4 linked regions of the Homo sapiens genome follow. The protein of the gene in region 3 interacts with the protein of the main gene of each other region in a biochemical or structural test. Each region holds a gene or a part of one and is shown on either strand. Other genes may lie near its edges. The genes, in order: PTPN2, PTPN1, STAT3 and NMI.

Evidence for each region.
Region 1: the proteins of STAT3 (region 3) and PTPN2 form a complex in vitro, tested with the Homo sapiens proteins (one study listed by BioGRID).
Region 2: of the proteins of STAT3 (region 3) and PTPN1, one has a biochemical effect on the other in vitro, tested with the Homo sapiens proteins (2 studies listed by BioGRID and IntAct).
Region 4: the proteins of STAT3 (region 3) and NMI form a complex in vitro, tested with the Homo sapiens proteins (one study listed by BioGRID).

What each region holds. Positions count from the first base shown.
Region 1 is NC_000018.10:12,874,227-12,881,265, forward strand, and holds part of PTPN2 (tyrosine-protein phosphatase non-receptor type 2), read right to left. Parts: intron 1-7,039. UniProt on the Homo sapiens protein: Non-receptor type tyrosine-specific phosphatase that dephosphorylates receptor protein tyrosine kinases including INSR, EGFR, CSF1R, PDGFR.
Region 2 is NC_000020.11:50,506,412-50,513,394, reverse strand, and holds the start of PTPN1 (tyrosine-protein phosphatase non-receptor type 1), read right to left. Parts: upstream 3,013-6,983; 5' UTR 2,868-3,012; coding exon 2,805-2,867; intron 1-2,804. UniProt on the Homo sapiens protein: Tyrosine-protein phosphatase which acts as a regulator of endoplasmic reticulum unfolded protein response. Mediates dephosphorylation of EIF2AK3/PERK; inactivating the protein kinase activity of EIF2AK3/PERK.
Region 3 is NC_000017.11:42,378,425-42,385,463, forward strand, and holds part of STAT3 (signal transducer and activator of transcription 3), read right to left. Parts: intron 1-7,039. UniProt on the Homo sapiens protein: Signal transducer and transcription activator that mediates cellular responses to interleukins, KITLG/SCF, LEP and other growth factors. Once activated, recruits coactivators, such as NCOA1 or MED1, to the promoter region of the target gene.
Region 4 is NC_000002.12:151,269,958-151,272,695, forward strand, and holds the end of NMI (N-myc-interactor), read right to left. Parts: intron 1,776-2,738; coding exon 1,669-1,775; intron 919-1,668; coding exon 736-918; 3' UTR 513-735; downstream 1-512. UniProt on the Homo sapiens protein: Acts as a signaling pathway regulator involved in innate immune system response.

The sequences.
Region 1 (7,039 bases), on a different chromosome or scaffold from region 3:
CAGCCGCCCCGTCCGGGAGGGAGGTGGGGGGTTCAGCCCCCCGCCCGGCCAGCCGCCCCGTCCGGGAGGGAGGTGGGGGGGTCAGCCCCCCGCTTGGCCAGCCGCCCCGTCTGGGAGGTGAGGGGCGCCTCTGCCCGGCCGCCCCTACTGGGAAGTGAGGAGCCCCTTCCGGGAGGGAGGTGGGGGGATCAGCCCCCGCCCGGCCTGCCGCCTCGTCCGGGAGGTGAGGGGCGCCTCTGCCCGGCCGCCCCTACTGGGAAGTGAGGAGCCCCTCTGCCCGGCCAGCCGCCCCGTCCGGGAGGAAGGTGGGGGGGGGTCAGCTCCCCGCCCGGCCAGCCGCCCCGTCCGGGAGGGAGGTGGGGGGTTCAGCCCCCCGCCCGGCCAGCCGCCCCGTCCGGGAGGGAGGTGGGGGGGTCAGCCCCCCGCCCGGCCAGCCGCCCCGTCCGGGAGGGAGGTGGGGGGGTCAACCCCTCGCCCGGCCAGCCGCCCCACCCGGGAGGTGAGGGGCGCCTCTGCCCGGCCGCCCCTACTGGGAAGTGAGGAGCCCCTCTGCCCGGCCACCACCCTGTCTGGGAGGTGTGCCCAACAGCTCATTGAGAACAGGCCATGATGACAATGGTGGTTTTGTGGAATAGAAAGCAGGGAAAGGTGGGGAAAAGATTGAGAAATCGGATGGTTGCCGTGTCTGTGTGGAAAGAAGTAGACATGGGAGACTTTTCATTTTGTTCTGTACTAAGAAAAATTCTTCTGCCTTGGGATCCTGTTGATCTGTGACCTTACCCCCCAACCCTGTGCTCTCTGAAACATGTGCTGTGTCCACTCAGGGTTAAATGGATTAAGGGCAGTGCAAGATGTGCTTTGTTAAACAGATGCTTGAAGGCAGCATGCTCGTTAACAGTCATCACCACTCCCTAATCTCAAGTACCCAGGGACACAAACACTGCGGAAGGCCTCAGGGTCCTCTGCCTAGGAAAACCAGAGACCTTTGTTCACTTGTTTATCTGCTGACCTTCCCTTCACTATTGTCCTATGACCCTGCCAAATCCCTCTCTGTGAGAAACACCCAAGAATGATCAATAAAAATAAAAATTAAAAAAAAAAAAAGCATAGAACAGAAAAGTTTAGTTTTCTTCTACTCAGGAAAGTGAGAGCTTATATTCTTTAAAGTTAGCCTGTGGAAATGTATCTCTTCCTCAGTTATCAGCTGCTATGTCTTAAATTTTACATGCTAAACTGATTGAGGATTTAGTATATGGCTAATCACTCTTATCCAAAGTAAGGGTGGTATTATTAAAAGTTCAGTTTATTAGTTGGTTTAAATATCCTCTGACTCTCAACAGCTTTCCATTAAGAAAAAACTACCTTAATGGGGCATTAAGTTAAGGAATAGAGAGTAGAGAATCTAGATGAGGATTTCCAAGGGAAACAAATCATACGTAACGTTTATTCAAGAAAGTGAAGAGCACACTATGTTAATTTTAATTTCGCGTACCCAGACCTTATCTGTCCATCTCTCTGGTTTATCTGGACTATTTGGAGACCAAAGGGAAGAAGGGGAGTAGAGAGTGGACAGGTAAGAGGACAAAGACAAGGTAGCTAAAAGAACAGCAGGGGACTGAGAGAGCTGTAACAGTTCTCCAACTGGGAATCAGAAATTCTCTGCAGAGTAACTATCTGGAAAAAGTAAAAAGGGCTTTTAAGATTCTGGTTGGCCAAGCACTGTGGCTCCCCAGCATTATGGAAGGGTGAAGCCGGAAGATCGCTTTAGCCCGGGAGTTCGAGACCAGTCTGGACAACATGGTGAGAACCTGTCTCTACAAAACATAAAAAATTAGCCAAGCATGGTGGCGTGCATCTGTGCAGTGAGCCGTGATCTCATCACTGCACTCCAGTCTGGGTGACAGAGTGAGACCCTGTCTCAAAAAACAAAACAAAACAAAATTCTGGTTAAGGGCTGGGCATGGTGGCTCATGCCTGTAATCTCGCCACTTCGGGAAGCCAAGGTGAGCAGACCACTTGAGGCCGGGAGTTCAAGACCAGACCAGCCTGGCCAACAAGAACAACAACAAAAAGAAGAAGAAGAAGAAGAAATTTGTCAGGCGTGGTGGTGTGTGCCTGTAGTCCCAGCTTCTCGGGAGGCTGAGGCAAAGGACCACTTGAGCCAGGAGTTTTGAGTCTGCAGTGACCTACGATCGTGCCACTGCACTCCAGCCTGGGTGACGGAATGAGACCCCTTCTCAAGAAAAAAAGAAGATTCTGGTTAAAATCAAGAAATCAAAAAAGAGGCAACTAGAAAAGCTAGGAGACAAACGCAACTATCTGGATTTCCGTAATTATAGATATCAGTAATCTATAAACACATGTCAAAGGCAAAACAATATGATTTCTAGGTATACATTCCCCATTGGGGCACCCATCCCAAGGCTGCTTTCCCTTCAAGCAGTGGTCTTTACCTTTTGAGGGATCACAGACAAATCCACTAAGAAACTGACAAAAGCTACAGAATCACCTAGAAACGAAATACCTGGGAACACACGTACATAAAATTTAGCAGTTTCAGGAGATTTGCAAATACCTTTCAAGTCTGATCCCTGGATCCCAGACACTGTTTTAAAGGCCTCAAGTCCCAAAATGACCCTACCTATTATAACACATCCACTCCCTCCTAGCCATCAAAATTAAGACGATTCCCTCTGTGCCACTGATCTCAAATAGATCATAAGAAGAAAGCACTACAGGTAGTCACATGGGTAAATTAGGGCAGTGCTGAAACGAGAATCAGAAGGACTGGATTTGAGTCCCAGTTATGACACTAGCAGATATTGTAACATCAGATAAGTCACAACACTGTATTGGCCCAGTGTTTCCTCAGCCATAAATGAGGGGTTTGGAATAAACTAAGGTGCTGACATTTTAAAAGGGAACAGTTTTCCTGTGTTTACTGAATATTTACTGAGCATCTAACATGTTTCAGGTCCCGTAGGTAGGTGGTGGGAAAACAAAGAAAAAAAAAGACCACCCTCAAGGAGCTACACAGAACAGACAAGTAGACAGTTACAAAACAATGTGGTTCATATTCTAATAAAAGAATATAGAGAACTAAGAAATGAGAGAAGGGGGAGCATTTAACTTTGCCCAAGGAGACTACGGTCTAGTCTTGAAGATGTTTCCCAAATAGATATGGTAGGCATGGAGTATATCCAACACATGAAGACTCCAAGGTGTGAGAGAGTAGCCAATCTTCAAGGGAATTCAGAGTTTGTGCAACCATGTAAAAGCACTGAGATTAGACAGCAGGCAGGAGAATGTGTAACTAGTAGGCAAGGGAAGTGTTTTAGAATAAGACAGCTTTGATTCACCTGCCTAACTGGCTGCCCCGCTGTAAGTATGAGAAGAACAGTGTGCACTTGATATCTGACTTCTAAAAATTAGCTGACTCACAAATGGTAAAAATTGTTCTCTAGCAATATTTGAACTACAAATTTCTAATAAAGAAAAATGGCGGCCAGGCGCAGTGGCTCATGCCTATAATCCCAGCACTTTGGGAGGCCGAGGCAGGTGGATCACAAAGTCAGGAGATCAAGACCATCCTGGCTAACACGGTCAAACCCCGTCTCTACTAAAAATACAAAAAATTAGCCTGGCGTGGTGGCGGGCGCCTGTAGTGTTGGCGGGCGCCTGTAGTCCCAGCTACTCAGAAGGCTGAGGCAGGAGAATGGCGTGAACCTGGGAGGCAGAGCTTGCAGCGAGCCGAGATGACGCCACTGCACTCCAGCCTGGGCAACAGAGCAAGACTGTCTCAAAAAAAGAAAAAGAAAAAAGAAAAATGGCCAGGCACAGTGGCTCATGCTTGTAATCCTAAGCCTTTGGAAGGCTGAGGTGGACAGATTGCTTGAACTCAGGAGTTGAAGACCAGCCTGGGCAAAATAGTTAAACCCTGTCTCTACAAAAAATACAAAAAAATTAGCCAGGCCCAGCTACGTGGGGGACTGAGGCAGGAGGATGTCTAAAGCCCAAGAGGTCGAGACTGCAGTGAGCTGAGATCACGCCACTGCACTCCAGACTGGGTGACAAAGTGAGACCCAGTCTCAAAAAGAAAAGAAAGAAAAAGAAAAAAAAAGAAAGAAAAAGGAAAAAAAGAAAGAAAAAGAAAAATGTGGCTGGGCGTGGTGGCTCACACCTGTAATCCCAGCAGCACTTTGGGAGGCCGAGGCAGGTGGATCACCTGAGGTCAGGAGTTCAAGACCAGCCTGACAAACATGGTGAAACCCCGTTTCTACTAAAAATACAAAAATTAGCTGGGCGTGCTGGTGGGCACCTGTAATCCCAGCTACTCGGGAGGCTGAGGCAGTAGAACTGCTTGAACCTGGGGGGAGCAGAGGTTGCAGTGAGCTGAGATCACACTACTGCACTCCAGCCTGGGGGACAGAGCAAGACTTGGTTTCAAAAAAAGAAAAATGAAGTCAGTCAGGAGTTCCATTGTTTATAAACCCTAATTAATCAACCAATTTCCAAGAGGCTGAGGTGAGAGGCTCACCTGAGCCCAGGAGTTTAAGGTTGCAGTGAGCTATGATTGCACCACTGCACTTGTACTCCAGACTGGGCAACAGAGTGAGAACTCTTTAAAAAAGAAAGGAATTTAAAAATAAATAAGCCAAATTCCTTCTGAGCCATCACTTCTTAGAAACAACCCATAACATAGCTTTTGCGATTCCCCAGTTTTAGTCTTTTCCTCAGTAGGCACACAGACTCCATTCCTTCTCTCTGCCTTTCTCAAAGCTCAGCCTGATGAAGACAGCAATCAGCAGTGACAAAAGGAAAAGCCAAAAAGGGATCATGAACATTACTCAAAAAGTCAGAATTAACCTCACACAATCAGACCAAATTAAACTTTTCCAACTGCACCCTTTGTTTTGCTGTTCTTGTTTTAGAGACAGGATCTCACTCTGTCACCTAGTCTGTAGTGCAGTGGCACAATTATGGCTCACTGCAGCCCTAACCTCCTGACCTCAAGTGATCCTCCCACCTCAGCCTCCCAAAGCGCTGGGATTACAGGGATGAGCCACCGCCTGGCCAGCACTCTTTCACGATCAATTCTTCCACCTGTGTGCTCTTGGTCCCATTGACTCTTGCTTTCTAAGATTTCTGGCTCCAACAATCATCCCTTCTATTTCAACCTCCACCTCTCTCTTTAGGTTCATCCCTGCAATCACATAAATATATCAAGTTGCCCTTTCCTCGTAAAAAGTCATTCATTCAGCACATATTTTCAAGTGCTTACTAAGCACCTGATACTGTGCAAAGCACTGGCAGTGCCTTCATGAAACTCTGAAGAAGTAATAAAAAATATAAACTCAGATTAACAGAGTCTGTTCTGCTCCAACCCAATAATTCATTTCTAAGAAACCTCCTATTATCAAACTCATGAAATAAAAGACACTTTTCAAAAGGAGCAAAAAGGAATAAGGGACCAGAGTTCCAGACTCAAAATACTAAATTCATTTTTCCCGCTAGAATTTCAACAAGGTATCAAGTTCTCCTACCACTAAGCAAGTCCAGCTTTTAGTTGTACTCAGTTTTTGCTCAAGAGCAAAGCCTTTCTTTTCCCAGCTCCATGAGCATTACCAAAAAAAGCACAACTCTTCAAAAACATTATCAGAAACATCACCCACTGCTGTGCTAAACAAAGCAGAAAGCCACCTTAAACACTTTTTTCCTACTCAAGCTGTGTTACTTTCAAGATAGTGGTTTGCTTAATGCAAATTGTGTTCCCGAAATCATTTGCTGCTGTATGACATCCAATTCCCGCTATGAAAGGGGAAGTCTTGGGATGCTAAAGAAGTACGCAACAGGGGCTCATACCCAGCATGGGCAGGTCAAGAAGGCCTGCCAAGGAAGTGAGACTTCAGGGATGAGTAGGAGGCAGTTTAAGCAAGAAAGGAAAGAGAAGGGGGGAAAGTTGTGCCAAGGCAAAGAGAACAACATTTACAAACGCCCTAAGGGGAGAATGGACACACACACTTCCAAGAATACAACACAGTGGAAAAGAGGGAGGAAAGTGATAGGGGAAATCAAGCAAGAGACACAGGCCATGAGGTCTTGTGAGCCGGAGGAGGGGCTGAATTTACACTGTGAGCAACGGAAAGCCGTTCAAGGGTTTAAGTGAGAAGTCACACAATCTTGCTTCATTTTAGCTACCTCTCCCCACTTCTTCAAGTTGGGCTTCTAAAAAGAGCAGTGTACACTTGGTAGTTTGCATTTCCTCCTACCTTCTCTCCTGAACTCCAGGTATCTGTCTTGTGTAGTCCGCTGACACAACTCCCTTTAAGGTATCTGTTAATCTAGCTGCTCAATGTCATGGCCCTCTCAGGCTGGCCCTTACCTGTCAGGTGGCCCTGCTCACCCTCAACTCCCTCCACTGCTTTCCTCCCCACTTCTGTGGTTGTTCCTCACCAGTCTTTTTTGCAAGTTCCTCTTTCTCCACCCATCCTTTTAAATGTTGTCTGTCAAGATTCTGTCCTTGGCCTTTGATATTTCCAAACGCTCTGTATCTTCCCTAGATGATCTCATCAATGTCTAAGACCTCAAATATCACCCATGTGTTCATGATTTCCAAAATCACATTTACTCAGACCCTCTCTCCCGAACTCCAAATTTATACATTCAACTAGCTTCATTTCAGTGTCTCGCAGGTACCTCAAACAGAATTAAAGTTTCAAAACCAAACTTGTACATAACGTATACCCCTTTACCATTTCATTTCAAATCTGTATCTCCCCTCCATCCCTCCTGCCACTGCCTAACAGAAGCTCATCATGTCTCTTCAGGTTTACTCCAACCGACTACTGCCCTGTGCTGCGTGCCTACACTTTCCTCATCCAGTCTGCTAGCAGTCAGAACGATCTTGCTAACAAGTAAATATGATCAGCCCAGAGCAGTGGCTCATGCCTGTAATCCCAGCACTTTGAGAGGCCGAGGCAGGCGGATCACCTGAGGTCAGGAGTTCGAGACCAGCCTGGCCAACATGTCGAAACCCTGT
Region 2 (6,983 bases), on a different chromosome or scaffold from region 3:
CATTCTAGCTCAGTAAAATCAATCTCTTTTCCTCATCTGGGCTCATTCTCTCCTCTTAGACAGCTAGGCCCAATCAAGCAACCGGATGATTTGAAAGTGTTTAAATGCTAGAAAACAATGTTTAAAGCCATCTATATACACTATCAAAGCTGACTTTTTATAGACCTAGATGCTTATTAGCATCTATGCTATTCATTAGCATTAAAGATTAAAAATACGGTTATGCTCACTTTATCAAACTGACCTAGCAAAGAATCTCTGCCTAAAAAGTTTGTTTTCCAAGCTGCCACATTCCTCAGCACTCAAAAGTCCTCTTCACTCTTTGTTCTTTTCCCAATAGTTTTCAAGTTTTTACATCTTTTTGTTCTAATCAGAAAATAAGTTAGAATAACTGACCTGCTTACCAAGTTGTAAGCAAAAATTACATTATTCTCTGATCACAATAGGCTAGGCAAGCTCAAAGTATGACTTTGTATAAGGCTGCCCTCATTTCAACATGCTATAAAGTATTAATTTTTTTAAACTTCCATTTTCTATCAATTGTAAACACATTCTTTGAATCCTTGAAAAATAATGGTTTTGGTAAAGCGATACACACCTTGGAAAGTTAGCCACTTTAGACTCAAGGTCATCTGAACTCTGTTTCAGAAAACGCTACAGTTGTATGACAAAGAGCTACTTTTACACTTAGGAGAAAAGCTTCTGATTTCAAGATCTTAGAAAAGAAAAATATCCATACAGTGGAGGTGAGAAAAGCTGGCCCTGACAATTCTCTAAGACCAAAAGAAACTACCTCAGGGAATGTGGCAATCCATTAAGAAGCAGTGAAAATCTCAACACCTTGACTAACTTGTGGGGTTTAATTGTGGCAGAAAAACTTAAGAACAATGAAGGAAATGAATTGAAGACTGACACACTCCATGCTAGTTGCATGCTGAATACAATTTTAACCATGCTTGGGTGACAGGTCAACCCACTCTGGCTTAAAATTGTAAGAAATAAAATTCAACTAAGAACTAAGTTACAATACGTATTTCTTGTTGTCAACTCAGTCAATTTCAGTGGAAAAGACTTCTCTCCACAATGCTTCCACTGTGATGGGGTGTATCATAATCAACTCCAACACTTCAGACCAACAATTTTCATTTAAAGACATTTTAGACTCTACTGCATTAAACTGATGCAGAAAATTTGTCTACACAGTCTCAAAGTCCCTTATGGAATTCATTCAGCTAATTCAGAGACCAGATATGGCATACAAATTTTATATACTGATCAATCATACTTATTAGTATATAGATTACAGTGGTTAGAAATATTAGTCTAGCAGAAACTAATATACACACTACAGTCCAAATAAAAAGAATCCTGTCAAATAAGCTTGATGTAAATCCACATGAAAATCAAGGCTGCCAAAAAAAAAGGCTTTTGTTAGTCAAGCATACCAAAGAACTGCTTAAACCTTTTTTCCTTTCTAAGCGGAGCTCAAAATAGATTTTAATACTACAGCTGATGGATCTCACAATTTGCCTTTTGAGCCTATAAGCTGAAAACAGAATCATCTGCTGTCTCCCTTTACACAAGTAACAAAATCTCTCTATTCTGTATATCGCTTATTTAAGATACTGTGCAAGTGTGGTTTTAGTTAATCTTAACAACCCCCGCAATGACATTTAATTGGGAGTATGTATCTTATTCAGCTGCTTGTGAAAGGAAGAGCTCTTTGTGTTTTTAACTACTTGTTTTATAGATATATGAGAAACCCTCCTTTCCTAACTTTTTAACACACAAGGAGATGACTCCTAAGACAAGGTCATCTCTGCCACGACCAAAGACTAAGCTGCTCATTGAGGAAAGATGCTATTTTAGAGAGGGTTAAAACGTTAACCTTCCTGAGTCCCTGCCTGAAAGAATAATATCATGGCCCCAATGGAGTGGGTACCGCAGGCCTCCTGGCTAGAAGGTTCTTTAGCCCCATATTCTCACGGCTTTCTGCTCCTCTTGGTTCAGCTCACAAAGCAAATGTCTCCTCCTTTGACAGGCCTTCCCTGATCCCCTTCTCTAAGACAGCCGGCCTTCTATGCAGTCACCCTGTACCCCGTTAGGAAGTCGTTCTCTTCACAGCACCTGTCACTATCTGAAATTATTTGCTTTTGTGTTTGATTGCCCTATTCGACTCTAGGCCCCACTAAGGCTAGGATCTTGCCTGTCCTGATTAGCAAACACCACCTCCAATGCCTAAGCGGTGCCTAGCACAGAATAAGCTTGCCAACTCCTATCCAATAAATGAATGAACAGAAAGGGGAAAGGGGACTGTCATCTCTGGGACTCGACGCACACTGAGACTAGGGGAAAGGAAATGTGAAGGAGGGACGGGGGGAGTAACCTTTTCCCCCAGGGAGACAAAGGAAGAGAGTCTGAGGTGGTCCACTCCAGAAAAGGAAATAGTGGGGGTGCTAAATCACCCCAGGGGACAAAGAGTGGACAGGCAGGGGGCGGGGTCGGGGTGCGAGGGATTCGCGTTGAGAGCACAGACCGGCGGTCCCCCGGCTTGAGAGATCACCCGAGCTGGAGAACAGAAGGGAGGTGGGGGATCGAAGGGGGCTCCGACGCTGCGGCGAGAAACACGCCCGCCCCGGGGACAAAGGGTGGGGGGACGCAGTGCGTCGCTGTCCCATCGAATCCTCAAGCAGTAGGAGCGAGGCAGAGGGCAAGACCCAGAGGGAGTCTGGGGCCTGGAGGTCTGAGGGGATGTTCAAGCGGCCTAAGCGAAGGGCCCGCCACGCTCCGGGGCGCTCCCGCACCTGGTAAATGGCCGCCCAGCTCCCGGACTTGTCGATCTGCTCGAACTCCTTTTCCATCTCCATGACGGGCCAGGGCGGCTGCTGCGCCTCCTTCTCGGCCCACTGCGCCGTCTGCCGCTCTAGGCCGCGTCGCGCTCTTAGCCCCGAGGCCCGCTGCAATCCCCGACCCCTGCAGCTACCGCCGCCCTAGCCGCTGCTGCTTCTTCATGTCAACCGGCAGCCGGAACTACGCATCACGCCTGCCAGGGGCTCCGCCCCTGAAGCAGAAGGACCAATCAGCGATCGAGAATTTCGACAAGCACTTCCGCGGGGAGGAGCCGGGGGCGGTGCTAGGGGAAGTGGCCCCAGCACCGCGAGATATCTAATAGCGCGCGTTCCCTCCTCCGCTTTGGGGCTCTGGGCTCGGGCGCGGCGCGCGCCTGTTGCCTAGGCGACCCCGGGAGCCCCGCCCACGGCGCGTGGGCTCTCCAGGCCCGGGAGGGCATTGAGTTCCAGCCCCGACCCGGCCCGTTGAGTCACAGAGTGAGTGGCCTTAAAGTAGTCATGCACCTCCTTTCCTGCAGGGCCTGGGCCCCAGCCTCAGTAATCCAAGCTGGAGTATGGGAGGAGGGCACCGTGCTCTATTTCCTGCCTCCCAGCTCTGGCCAGATGTCTGCCCTTTTTTCATGAAACTCAGGAGTATCATGTTTCACTACGCTGCTGGGGAAGCCCACTGCTCTCTAAGGGTAGTGTCCCTGTCTGAAACGCAGAATTTCCACTTGGGTGCTGCAGGAATGAATGGATGGGGATGGAATGATTTTCAGTGTTTCCCGAAGTATCAAGGAACTCCTGCTCAGACTGAACTAAGCAGAGCACAAATTCCATGGTGCATTATGTTAAATAAAAATCATAGGAGCCCAGGCGCGGTGGCTTACATCTGTAATCCCAGCACTTTGGGAGGCAGAGGCAGGCGGATGTCTTGAGGCCAGGAGTTCCAGACCAGCCTGGGTAACAGAATCAGACCTCGTCACTACTAAAAGTTAAAAAATTAGCCGGTGTGGTGGGGCCCAGCTGCTGGGGAGGCTGAGGCAGGAAGATCACCTGAGCCCAGGAGGTGGAAGCTGCAGTGAGCTGTTTTGGCGCCACTGCACTCCACCTTGGGTGGCAGAGAGAGACCCTGTCTTGAAAAAAAAGGGCTGGGTGTGGTGGCTCACACCTGTAATCCCAGCACTTTGGGAGACCGACGCAGGTGGATCACCTGAGGTCAAGAGTCCGAGACCAGCCTGACCAACATGGTGAAACTCGGTTTCTGCTAAAAAAAAAAAAAAAAAAAAAAATTAGCCGGGCGTGGTGGCGCATGCCTGTAATCCCAGCTACTTGGGAGGCTGAGGCAGGAGAATCGCTTGAACCCTGGAGGCAGAGGTTGCAGTGAGCCAAGATAGCTCCACTGCACTCCAGCCTGGGCAACAAGAGCGAAACAAACAAACAAAAAAAGTTCTGGCATTAGGGTCTCAACAGACTAGACTAAAAATCAAAATGGAGTCACTCATGCTAAAGTTCTACATCATCAGACTGATAACCTTTCACAAAATCAGAAGAGAGATACACACCCTGATTTCCCAAGCAGACCGTTTTAATCAACATAATGAAGTTCCCTTTGCTTTAATCCTTACAACAAAAAGTAACCTGAAGTAACCCGATGCGACCAATCAGTTATTTCTCTCTTGTTCTGTTTCCCTGTTCCTGCCTTACAAGGAAAGTAACTTTGAAATGACCAATCTGCTTTTTGTTCTTTGTTTCTGCTTTTTTCAGCCCTTTTCTGTCTATAAAACCAACCTCCTCTGCTCAGCTCATTGGGACACTTGTGCTATTTTGAGGAATGAAGTCTTGCCCGATTCTAGAATCATGAATGAAGCCAATTAAGATGTTTAAGTTTGTTGTAATTTTGTCTTTTGACATTTACGGTCACCTGGGAAGTGTGTTGAATAATGCAGGTTCCTGGACCCATCGCCAAATGATTCAGATATCTTTGGTCTAGGGATGAGACCCGGAATCTGCATTTTCACCAACAACTCCAGCTGATTCTCGTACCTATGATCCTTAAAGCACCCATGAGCAGGTTGGTCAGGTTGCCTTCCTGCAGGCTCCAGTTTAAACCATCCCCCTCTGGGCCTGGCATGTCATGTGGACGTTGTGAATTCCAGGAGGTTTGAAAACCTGGAAGAGAGAATTGTCTTCATTCCGTGTTGCCCAGAGACACTGCCTGGTATTATCAGCTGAACTCCAGCTCATTCCTTGAGTGCTTGTGGCAGGCACTATGCCTGGAATTCTAAGTACACATTCCCATTCAATCTCCACAACAACCCTTCAATACAGGTGCTATTATTCCCATTTTATAAACGAGAAAACTGACTGGCTGTGGTGGCTCACGCCTGTAATCCCACCACTTTGGGAGGCCGTGGTGGGTGCATCACTTGAGGTCAGGAATTCGAGACCAGCCTGACAAGCATGGTGAAACCTCAACTCTACTAAAAATACAAAAATTAGCAGGGTGTGGTGGTGCATGCCTGTAATCCCAGCTACTCGGCAGGCTGAGGCACAAGAATCACTTCAACCTGGGAGGCAGAGGCTGCAGTGAGCTGAGATTGCACCACTGCACTCCAGCCTGGGCAACAGAGCAAGATCCTGTCTCAAAAAAAAAAAAAAAAATTAGCCGGCTGTGGTGGCGTGCACCTGTAGTCCCAGGTACTCAGGAGGCTGAGATGGGAGAATCACTTGAGCCTGGGAGATTGAGGCTGCAGTGAGCCATGATCATGTCACTGCACTCCAGCCTGGACGATAGAGTGAGACACTGTCTCAAAAAAAATAAATAAATAAAAATAGGCCAGGCCTGGTGGCTCACACCTGTAATCCTAGCACTTTGGGAGGCTGAGGCAGGTGGATCACCTAAGGTCAGGAGTTCAAGACCAGCCTGGCCAACATGGTGAAAGCCTGTCTCTACTAAAAACACAGAAAATAGATGGGTGTGGTGGTGCACACCTGTAATCCCAGCTAATTGGGAGGCTGAGGAAGGAGAATGGCTTGAACCTGGGAAGTGGAGGTTGCAGTGAGCCGAGATTGAACCACTGCACTCCAGCCTGTGCGACGGGAGAAAGATGCCATCTCAAAAAATAAATAAATAAATACAATAAATTAAATTAAAATAAAAATAAAAAATTAGATGAGGGGGGGACCGGGTGCGGTGACTCATGCCTGTAATCGCAGCACTTTGGGAGGCTAAGGCGGGTGATCGCCTGAGGTCAGGAGTTCGACACCAGCCTGATCAATATGGTGAAACCCCATCTCTACTAAAAATACAAAAAAATTAGCCAGCCATGGTGGCGTGTGATTGTAGACCCAGCTACTCGGGAGGCTGAGACAGGAGAATTGCTTGAACCTGGGAGGCAGAGGTTGCAGTGAGCCAAGATCACACCACTGCACTCGGGCCTGGGTGACAGAGCAAGACTCTGTCTTAAAAAAAAAAAATGGATGAGGAAACTGAAGCACAGAGAGACAAAATTACTTGTCCAGAGTAGCATTGCACATTGGTATGGAAACCTGCATTCTAGCCTGGTTTCCAGAGCCTGCTTTGGAGCCAGGCTTCGTGGGTCCAGGTTCCAGCTGAATAAATACTAGTGGTGCAAACTTGGGCAAATTTTCATTAGTCTCTGCTCTCCTTTGTAAAACAGAGATAATAAAAGTGCCCACCTCATAGGGCTGATGTGAAGGTTGGATGAGTACATATCATGCTCTTAGTATACTGAGTGGCTCAATAAATATTAACTGTCATTACTACATATCTTTAAATAATAGCAAATAAAGGAGATAAATGAAATGTTATTGAATACATGCAATTAGCTTGATCAGCAGTGTCTTTAGAAAGTGAGCATTCCATAGGGGAAAAATTAACAAAAATGCCCATTCCAGTGAAAACTGTGGGAGCTGCCACACTTGGAAGCTACCTAATTGAAGTCTTAGTTCCTTTAAGTGACTGTCCAGACTCCTGTGCTCCTCCCGCCCTTAAACCCTTATACTTTTTGGGTTCTGGTTTGTCTGGAACTCACAATCCTGAGAGCATCCTGGAACAAAAACAGGGCTGGTTCATTCCTGTCCCTGTATGTCAAGCTAAGTAAGTAAATAAATGCCCATCCCAAGCCCAAG
Region 3 (7,039 bases):
TCAGTAGAAACAGGATTTCACCAAGTCGGCAAGGATGGTCTTGAACTCCTGACCTCAAGCAATCCACATGCCTTGGTCTCCCAAAGTGCTGGGATTACAGGCGTGAGCCATCGCTCCCGGCCTCCTAATTATGTTTCATTTTGGTTAATGTTTCAATAAATGTGCTTTCCCTAAACATACTGATGAAAAGAGGCCCAAATGCAAAACTGATTTGTCGAGAAAGTCAGTCTGAGATGAAATATTTATTATGTCTAAACCACAAGTAGAAAAAAATTCAAAGGCCGACTATTTCAATGCTAACTCAATGCAATATTGCACTTTGTTTGGTTTACGGGAGAGGTAATTTACACAGCTAACATTTGGGTTTTCAAGATTACATTGTGGGGAGAGAAGGGGAAAACAAGAAAAGTCTAATGCTTTTAGATTCTGTCAGAAAAAGTGTTTGCTAAAAAGCAAAACAAAATGAACATGAGAAAAAATGTGAAAAAACATGCATTTTAGGAAGCTTTCACCGAAGCAGGTGCTCAAGTTCAGACTCAAATCTTCCAACTCTTGTAATAAAAATGAGAGGTCAGAATACCACAAACTAATCAAATCAATCAAACAAAGCGGGAAACAGGTGGCTGACACCAGACTGGGCAGGGTTTTCCTAAATTGGGCTTACCTTCACTAATCCAAATCAGTTTTCAGAAATGGCTTCTACAAAAACTACCCAAACATCCCCCTAATAATTTGCACTCCTCCTCCACAATAGGGAAGCCAAGCCGTTTATTTCCCAGAAGGTTTACTTTCTCTTTCAAGCTCTGCTGGCTTCTTCCTGCCCCGCATACGGCCAGGAAAAAAGAAAAGCACTGCCTTTTCTTTCCTGCCTTCTCTAAAACTGGGGAGATGGGGTGAGAGAACCTGTTTCATGGACAAGCTGGGTGGTTCTTAACTGCAACACTGTTCTGAATACAGATTAGTTTGCAAAGGAAAGTTACAGGACAGGAAAATAAAGGTCTACCCCTCCAACTAACTCATACACATGTACATTTGCATGTACGCACACACACAGATGTGAGGGCACATTTAATTCAGCTGAGTAATGTGCAGCAATCAGCTCCCAGCTTCATACCTGGCCACCGGGATGCCTCCTCACTCCCACCTTCTTTACCTGACTCAAAATAAGGTTCCTCCTGTTGGCTTCTTCCTGAGACACAACCAACTCTAATCATTCCTCTTCCCCTCAAACCTTCAACACTACCTGCACTTTCTGGGTCGGGAGCAATTCCTTGGGTGGTAATCCATTTTTAATGTGTTAAATATTACTTAAAATAAGGGAGAGGTAATCATGGACTGTGGGCAATGCAGAGATTTATCAGAAGGGCATTTGTGTAAACAGGAATTTACAGTTTGCCTTACCTATTCCTTTTATATGACAGCCTCAATTTCCTCTAACAGAATGTAAGTCCCCCATCCCTATTCATTTAGTTTTTTTCCCATTAGGTTAGAATCTGCTAATTATTCTTTCTCTCCTTTGGGTCATTAGTGGCTGCCATGAATCATAATTTGCCTGACTTTGTAATATCTAACAGATATTACCATTTTAGTTTAGTTTTTGATATGACAGTTTTTTGTTTTTTGTTTTTGTGACGGAGTCTTGCTCTGTCTCCCAGGCTGGAGTGCAGCGGCGCGATCTCAGCTCACTGCAACCCCCACCTCCTGGGTTCAAAAGCAATTCTCCTGCCTCAGCCTCCCGGGTAGCTGGGACTACAGGCACCCGCCACCACAACAGGCTAAATTTTATATTTTTAGTAGAGACGGGGTCTCACTATGTTGGGCAGGCTGGTCTTGAACTCCTGACCCGCCTCGGCCTCCCAAAGTGCTGGAATTACAGGCGTGAGCCACCATGCCCGACCTCCTAATTATGTTTTATTCCACCTGCCCCTATGTATAAGCGTTACCACCCTAATTATGCTTTTTGTTTTTCGGTTTTTTTGAGACAGAGTCTCACTCTGTCACCCAGGCTGTAGTGCAGTGGCACGATCTCGGTTCACCGCAACCTCCGCCTCCCGGGTTCAAGCGATTATCCTGCCTCAGCCTCCCGAGTAGCTGGGATTACAGGTGCCCACCACCACAACTGGCTAATTTTTATATTTTTAGTAGAGACGGGGGGGGTCTCACTCTGTTGGGCAGGCTGGTCTTGAACTCCTGACCTCAGGTGATCCACCCGCCTTGGCCTCCCAAAGTGCTGGGATTACAGGCGTGAGCCACCGCACTCGGCCTGATATTATAGTTTTTAATAAGAGTAATTCAGCCTAGGCAACGTGACGAGATCCTGACTCAAAAAAATTAGAAAATTAGCTGAGGGTGGTAGCACACACCTGTAGCCCCAGCTACCCCGAAGGCTGAGGCAGGAGGATCACTTGAGCCTAGGAGGTCAAGGCTGTCATGAGCTGTGATCTCACCGCTGCACTCCAGCCTAGGTGACAGAGTGAGAACCTGTCTCAAAAAATAAATAGTAATAATAGTAATTATTAGCACTTGAATGTTACCTGTCTGCCCGGCACTATGCAAAGTACTTGATATGCATCATCTTGCTTCATCCTCTCAATTACTCTACAAGTGGACCTCGTTTCCACAATTGTGGACAGAGAAACTGAAAACCAGAGAAGTGAAAACAACAGGCCCAAGGTCTAAGAGAAGGCAGAACTGGGATTAAAGCCCAATAGGTCTGACCTGATAGTCCACTCTTTTAACTGCTATAGTAACTTTGGACCATGAAACCCTCAAACATACCAACCAAGTGTTTCAAAACTACAATAGCAATCACCTTAGGAATACTCAAAATATAAGTTCTTTGGCTGACGCAGTTAAAAATTCAAAGGTCAGGTAAAATTTCAGTGATGAGCAAGGTCATTTATTCTTATGGCTGGGGGTAGCAGGAAGGAAAGCCGGATCGTCGAAGCATTATTTTCTTGTAGGGGCAGATTTACCTTCCTTATTATTCTTTTGCTAGGCTGTTAAAAGGAATTTGGAAGGCCAGGCGTGCTGGCTCACGCCTGTAATCCCAGCACTTTGGGAGGCCGAGGCAGGCGGATCACAATGTGAGGAGATTGAGACCATCCTGGCTAACACGGTGAAACCCTGTCGCTACTAAAAATATAAAAAAAAAAACATTAGCTGGGCGTGGTGGCGGGCGCCTGTAGTCCCAGCTACTCGGGAGGCTGAGGCAGGAGAGTGGCGTGAACCCGGGAGGCGGAGCTTGCAATGAGCCAAGATAGCGCCACTGCACTCCAGCCTGGGCGACAGAGCGAGACTCCATCTCAAAAAAAAAAAAAAAAAGGAATTTGGAATAAATATGTCTCCAAGATAACCTGGTAAACAGAAAGGGCTGCAAAAAATCTGAATAAAAGCAAGTCAATTAACAGGATACATGTAAAACACACATTTTATATTCCTACAAGTCTTTTTTTTTATAATAGCATGTTATTACTTTTCTAAAAAGGACAAAATAACTTATTTTAATGACATTTAAACCCAATTATTAACAGAAAAGGGATAAGAACTGTGGTTCCTTGGCCTCCTTTCCCCTTGGTTTAGTTCTCCTAAATTAAGAACTTCTACTTATAGCTCCCTGAACACACAAGGCTGTTTTAAGCCTCTGCACCCTCATGTTCCTTCAGCCTTGAATGCAACTTTTTGTAACGCAACTTCGTGGAAAGAATTCCTATTCATCCTATAAAACCCTATTCAGGTGTTCCCATCTGATAAAGCCCCTCAATAATGATGACTTTCTCTCACTCCTGAAAAGAATTAATCTCTTTTCTTGGATATTTAGTAAGAACTTAGATTTACCGAGCTCTTACTATGTGCCAGGCACTATGCTAAGCATTTTATCCACATTATCTTATTGAATCGTCAACAGTACCTACAAGATAAGCACTGTTATAATCTTCTTTTACAGATAAGAAAATAGAGGCTCAGATTCTGACTAGGAAGTGGCAGATCCAGGATTCAGTCCCAGATCTGTTTGACTTCAGAGCCAGAGTCTTGAACCACTCACTGCCCTGTCGTCTCCCCTGTCCTACTTCCATACTGGCATAGCACACACCTCGGTCCCTGCAACATCTCCAGTTTCATGAAAACGGACAATATTTCATTATCCTTGGATCCTGCCTGACGCAATACCTGGCTCTCAACATGTTTGCTGATCTGAATTAAAGAGTTGCGGTAATCCTTTTTTTTTTCTTTTTTTTTTGAGATGGAGTCCCACTCTGTTGCCCAGGCTGGAGTGCAGTGGCACGATCTCAGCTCACTGCAAGCTCCGCCTCCAGGACTCATGCCATTCTCCTGCCTCAGCCTCCTGAGTAGCTGGGACTACAGGCGTCTGCCACCACGCTGGGCTAATTTTTTGTATTTTTAGTAGAGGCGGAGTTTCACCGTGTTAGCCAGGATGGTCTCGATCTCCTGACCTCGTGATCCGCCCACAGCCTCCCAAAGTGCTGGAATTACAGGCATGAGCCACCACACCCGGCTGGGTAAGAGTTGCAGTAATCCTAACATGACAAATGAGAACTGACCATAACAGAAATTCATTCTTCCATATGTTATTCCCAGGCCTCATAACCTCTCCTTCCTCTGAAGACATGTAGCATTCAGTGTAGCACTGTCAGAATGTCTCACTCTGTCCCCCAGTCTGGAGTGCAGTGGCAGGATCTTGGCTCACTGCAGCCTCCACCTCCCAGGTTCAAGCAATTCTCCTGGCTCAGCCTCCAGAGTAGCTGGAACTACAGGCGTGTGCCACCACACCTGGCTAATTTTTGTATTTTTAGTAGAGACGGGGTTTTACCATGTTGGCCAGGCTGGTCTCAAACTCCTGACCTCAAGTGATCCGCTCACCTCTGCCTCACAAAGCGCTGGGATTACAGGCATCAGCCACCATGCCCAGCCTGTTTTTGCCTTTTTTTTTTTTTTAAAGAAACAAAGTGGTCTCACTATGTTGCCCAGGCTGGTCTTGAACTCCTGGGCTCAAGCAATCCTCTTGCCTCGGCCTTCCAAAGTGCTGGGATTATAGGCATGAGCCACTGCTCCTGGCCCGATATGCTACTCCTTTTAAAAACTGGAGGCATCTCAAACAATTTACCACCAAAGGACCATGTGGCCATACTGACTAAAGCGCACTACACTTTACGCTTACGTCTTGTAAGCCAAGGTGTCTAACAAAGAGTATATAACCACCATATTAATTCTTTACACCATAATCAATAAGGGCTGGGCCAGCCCAGCAATGCCATCCTCCTGGATCTCACTGAGGCTGCTCCAGAACACCAGAAGTTCTTCAGGATTCGGGGATGTCCCTCAAGTACTCTTTCAGTGGTTTTTATAAATGACTCAAAAGTTATGGTGAAATTTTTAAGTGCCAAAGACATAAAATATGAGTGGTGGTTTGTATCCAATCAAAAATCCTCAAAAAACACTTCTGCACTTAAGCACACTATACTTTTTTCACCCAAAGTACCAAATCAAACTAGTCAGGATACCTACCTTTGTACAATGTCAGACTCCAGTTAATAACTCCCCTAGGGCAGAGGGCATATGCACTGATTTACTTTGTACAAATTAACCAGCATCAGGCAATCAGGCCTGTGCCTAACACATAGTAAGCACTCTATGATTAAACATCAGTGCTTCGGCTCCAAAGTTTTATTTATTTATTTATTTATTTATTTTTTTTTTTTTTGAGACGGAGTCTCGCTCTGTCGCCCAGGCTGGAGTGCAGTGGTGCGATATCGGCTCACTGCAAGCTCCGCCTCCCGAGTTCACGCTCTTCTCCTGCCTCAGCCTCCCGAGTAGCTGGGACTACAGACGCCCGCCACAACGCCCGGCTACTTTTTTTTGTATTTTTAGTAGAGATGGGGTTTCACCGTGTTAGCCAGGATGGTCTCGATCTCCTGGCCTCGTGATCCGCGCGTCTGGGCCTCCCAAAGTGCTGGGATTACAGGCGTGAGCCACCGCGCCCGGCGCCCCGAAAGTTTTAAAAGCTTCCCCTACAAAAGAACAGAACTGAAATTCCTTGGTCCTGTATTCAATGTCTTTTGTAAGTAATCACTTCTCCCCTACTTACCCTCCTAGTCTACCGGGCTACCAGGAATTTTTTTTTTTTTTGGAGACAGGGTCTCACTCTGTCACCCAGGCTGGAGTGCGGTGGCGGGATCACGGCTCACTGCAGCCTTAACCCCCGGGGCTTGGGTGATCCTCCCACCTTAGTCTCACCAGTAGCTGGGACTACAGGTCCACGCCACCAGGCCTGGCTAATTTTTTTTATTTTTAGGGGAGAGGGAGTTTTACCACGTTGCCCAAGCTGGTCTCAAACTCCTGGGCTCAAGCAATCCTCCTGCCTCAGCCTCCCAAAGTGCTGGGATTACAGGCATAAACCACCGCAAATTCTTTACACCTATCAAATTCCACCCATTATTTGGGACCCAGTTGAAATCCCTCTTTGGCAAAAAGACTTTCTAGACAACTCCAGGCCTCATAACCTCTCCTTTCTCTGAAGATCTGTAGCATTCAGCCTAGCACTGTCCAATAGAACGTTCTATGATAACAGAAAAGTTCTACATCTGTACTGTATGTTCTTTTATGTAGAACAGCTACCTTGTTAGCACAAGTGTAAAGTCTCACCATCTCTTTGATGACAACATGTTACATTGGATGGTTAAAACATTTATCAGCTCCCCCAGTAGACTGCAATTTCTGTGAACAAGATACAACTTATTCTTCATAGCAACTCTGACAAAGTTGCAAAAGGTATATATATGTTGGCCAGGCAAGGTGGTTCACGCCTGTAATCCCAGCACTTTGGGAGGCTGAGGTGGGCAGATCTCTTGAGGTCAGGAGTTTGAGACCAGCCTGGTCAATATAGTGAAACCTTATCTCTACTAAAAATACAAAAATTAGCCGGGCGTAGTGGCGGGCACCTGTAATCCCAGCTACTCAGGAGGCTGAGGTGCGAGAATCACTTGAACCCGGGAGGAGGAGGTTGCAGTGAGCCACGATC
Region 4 (2,738 bases), on a different chromosome or scaffold from region 3:
GTCATTCCCCAGCATCGAGCATGATAAGTGATGAGTCACTAACTTTGTATTTACCTCTCTCTCCATGCCAAGGTTTTCAAACTCTTATACCAATTGTTTCCATTGTAAGTGCAAAAGAAAGAAAAAGCTAGTCCTTTACGAGCTCTATTTGGAGAGGGGATGGCTTGGAAGGAATCAAGGGACACTTGGCACTTGGGTGAACAGAAATTCAAGAAAAAGATCACACTCAGCTCTGAGAACCTTTAGAGTTGTGGAGTGAAATGCTATGCACAGTGGTAAATGGTTGCTCTTGAAGTCCTTCGAATCTTCAGTTGAGTTTACAGGAATCACCAACTGCTGAATGTAACTGCCTTTGTTTTGGAAAATGTTAAGAGTCAAGTCTGCATATTGGTGGGCATGGGGCCACAACTGAATTGGCCCACAAGACCATAACAGGATGAGCCAGCACTGGCAGGGGACATCTGAATCACTTAAGGTTGATTTCAGCAGACATGGCACCAATACACATAATCTATAAACAAAACTTTTTATTACAGTGCACTTATTGTAGTTGAAAACATGCAGCACCATTTGAAACAAAGAAGATTCAGAAACATGGAAATAAGTTTTGTATCTAAACATAAATGGATGGTAAAAATTAAAGTTTTCATTTTTTAAGGAAAAGCATATTCATTTTTGTCAAACATTTACAGTAATCCGGGTTAAAAAGCTATAGTTTTCATGATTCTGTTAAGTCTATTCTTCAAAGTATGCTATGTGAGGTTGACCTAGAGAACACTTGACCACATCTACTTCTCCACCTCCATTCTTTGCCCGTTGAAAGTGAATGTTAATTAAATCCTCCACAATTTCTTCATCCATTTGAATGCCTTCCATTCCTGTCAGAAGCACTGTCCTCTTAGATGTTCCTGAAAATATCTAAGAAGGAAAAAATGATAAATAGAAAGATTTCTAAGAGCTTTGAATTACAAAACTTTACATTCATAATCTCTGCTTAATATTTTTTATTTTATCTTAGAAGAGACAAGAAATCTTAGGAAGATTTTCCAAGCAAGAGAATATCCAAGTCAGATCTGAGTTTTAGAAAGAGAACTCTGGTGGCATTATGGAACACAGAGGAAAGGAGGGATGCTCTGGGAACAGAAAGACCAGGTAAAGAGGTAGTCAGAAGTGGAGCTGGCAAGATTTAGTGACCAAATGAATGTTGGAGGTGAAGCAAACTGAAGAGTTAAGTATGAGTTCTAGCTTTTAAGTTGGTGGAGTAGGTAGATGGTGGTACCATTGGATACCTGAGAAGGAAGAGGAAAAGGGAGCAGGTCTGGGGTAAAGATAATGAGTTCAGAGAAAGTAGGCAGGAATTCTTTCTCATGCTCACTGACAGTAGACATATGAGAGAAATGCAACTATGTCTCCATGTACAAAAATAAAAATTGTGCCATTATCTGAGTAATTTCAGTTTTAAAAATTGTATAATAAAGTACAGTTTTGCATTAAAATGCTCCTTCAAAAGACAAACTCATTTTGCACCAAGCAAAAATGAAGTAAAGAAACCATTTTGCTATCCCTCATTGATAAGATGCATAAGTAACAGACTCACAACAACTTTATTTTTTGTGGGGTGGGTTTGGGCAGTGAGTTCTGAAAATGAGAGAACAGAGATGACTTTACCTGATACTTTTTCAAGTGTATTTCTGTGTATGGAGAAACAGTAACTCTATGGCAGGTTTGATTTATATAAAGAGGGTATTCTTTCTTTTTCAAAATCTTGTCAGCCACTAAAAGCAAAACAAAAACAATACTTGTCTTTTTTATATCATAAGCATTTTTAACCAAAGTTAAAACTTCCTTCAAAGAGAACACTATTACAGTAAATATTGAGTTAAAAGATTAATTTTTAAGAAATTCTAAAGCCCACTTTGAAGACTTCACAGTACATAATTTTGAAAACTACAAGACCAAACAATAATGAGGTTTAAAGCCTTCATTCCATCTTGAATTATTCACTGCAGTCAATCAATGCACAAAGGGTTGCAATGTCCTCAGACAGATCTACTTTGAGCTATAAAAAATACCATAGTCTTTTGCAGAAAGTAACCCACTCATCTAACAAGACTGGACTGTTTCCCAGTTTCTCAAAAGCTGTAAGTGAAAACTATGATTAGAATACTATATACATTTTTTTCAATATATTCAATAAACTGAAGTAATGATGTTAACCAAAGCAGGGAGGGGATTGAATGTCATCTAGAAAAACTGAAAGGAAATAAAAATTCATCAGTTTTCTACAACACAAAGAATAGTCTATTTTTTAGCAGTATTTTTTTCTCCTAGAGTGGTGAAAGGATGTGTGTCAAGACTGTAACATTTAACAAAAACAGTTCTTGGGAATATACAACCATGTTTTTTATGACTCTTCTCACTCATCTACCTTGGATCAGCAATATGGTACAATGATTAAGAGTGTAGGCCCTCATTGGCGAGAATATGGAGAAATTGAAACCCTGAGGCAATGCTGATAGAAATGTAAAATGGTACAGCCACTGTAGAAAACAGTATGACAGTTCCCCAAAATATTAAAATAGAACATGATATGATCCAGCAATTCAACTTCTGGGTATATACCCGAAACAACTGAAAGCAGGGACTCGGACAGATACTTGCTCGTTAATGCTCAGAGCAGTATTTTTCACAATAGGCAAAAGGTGGAAGCAACCCAAGCATCCACCAACAGATGAACA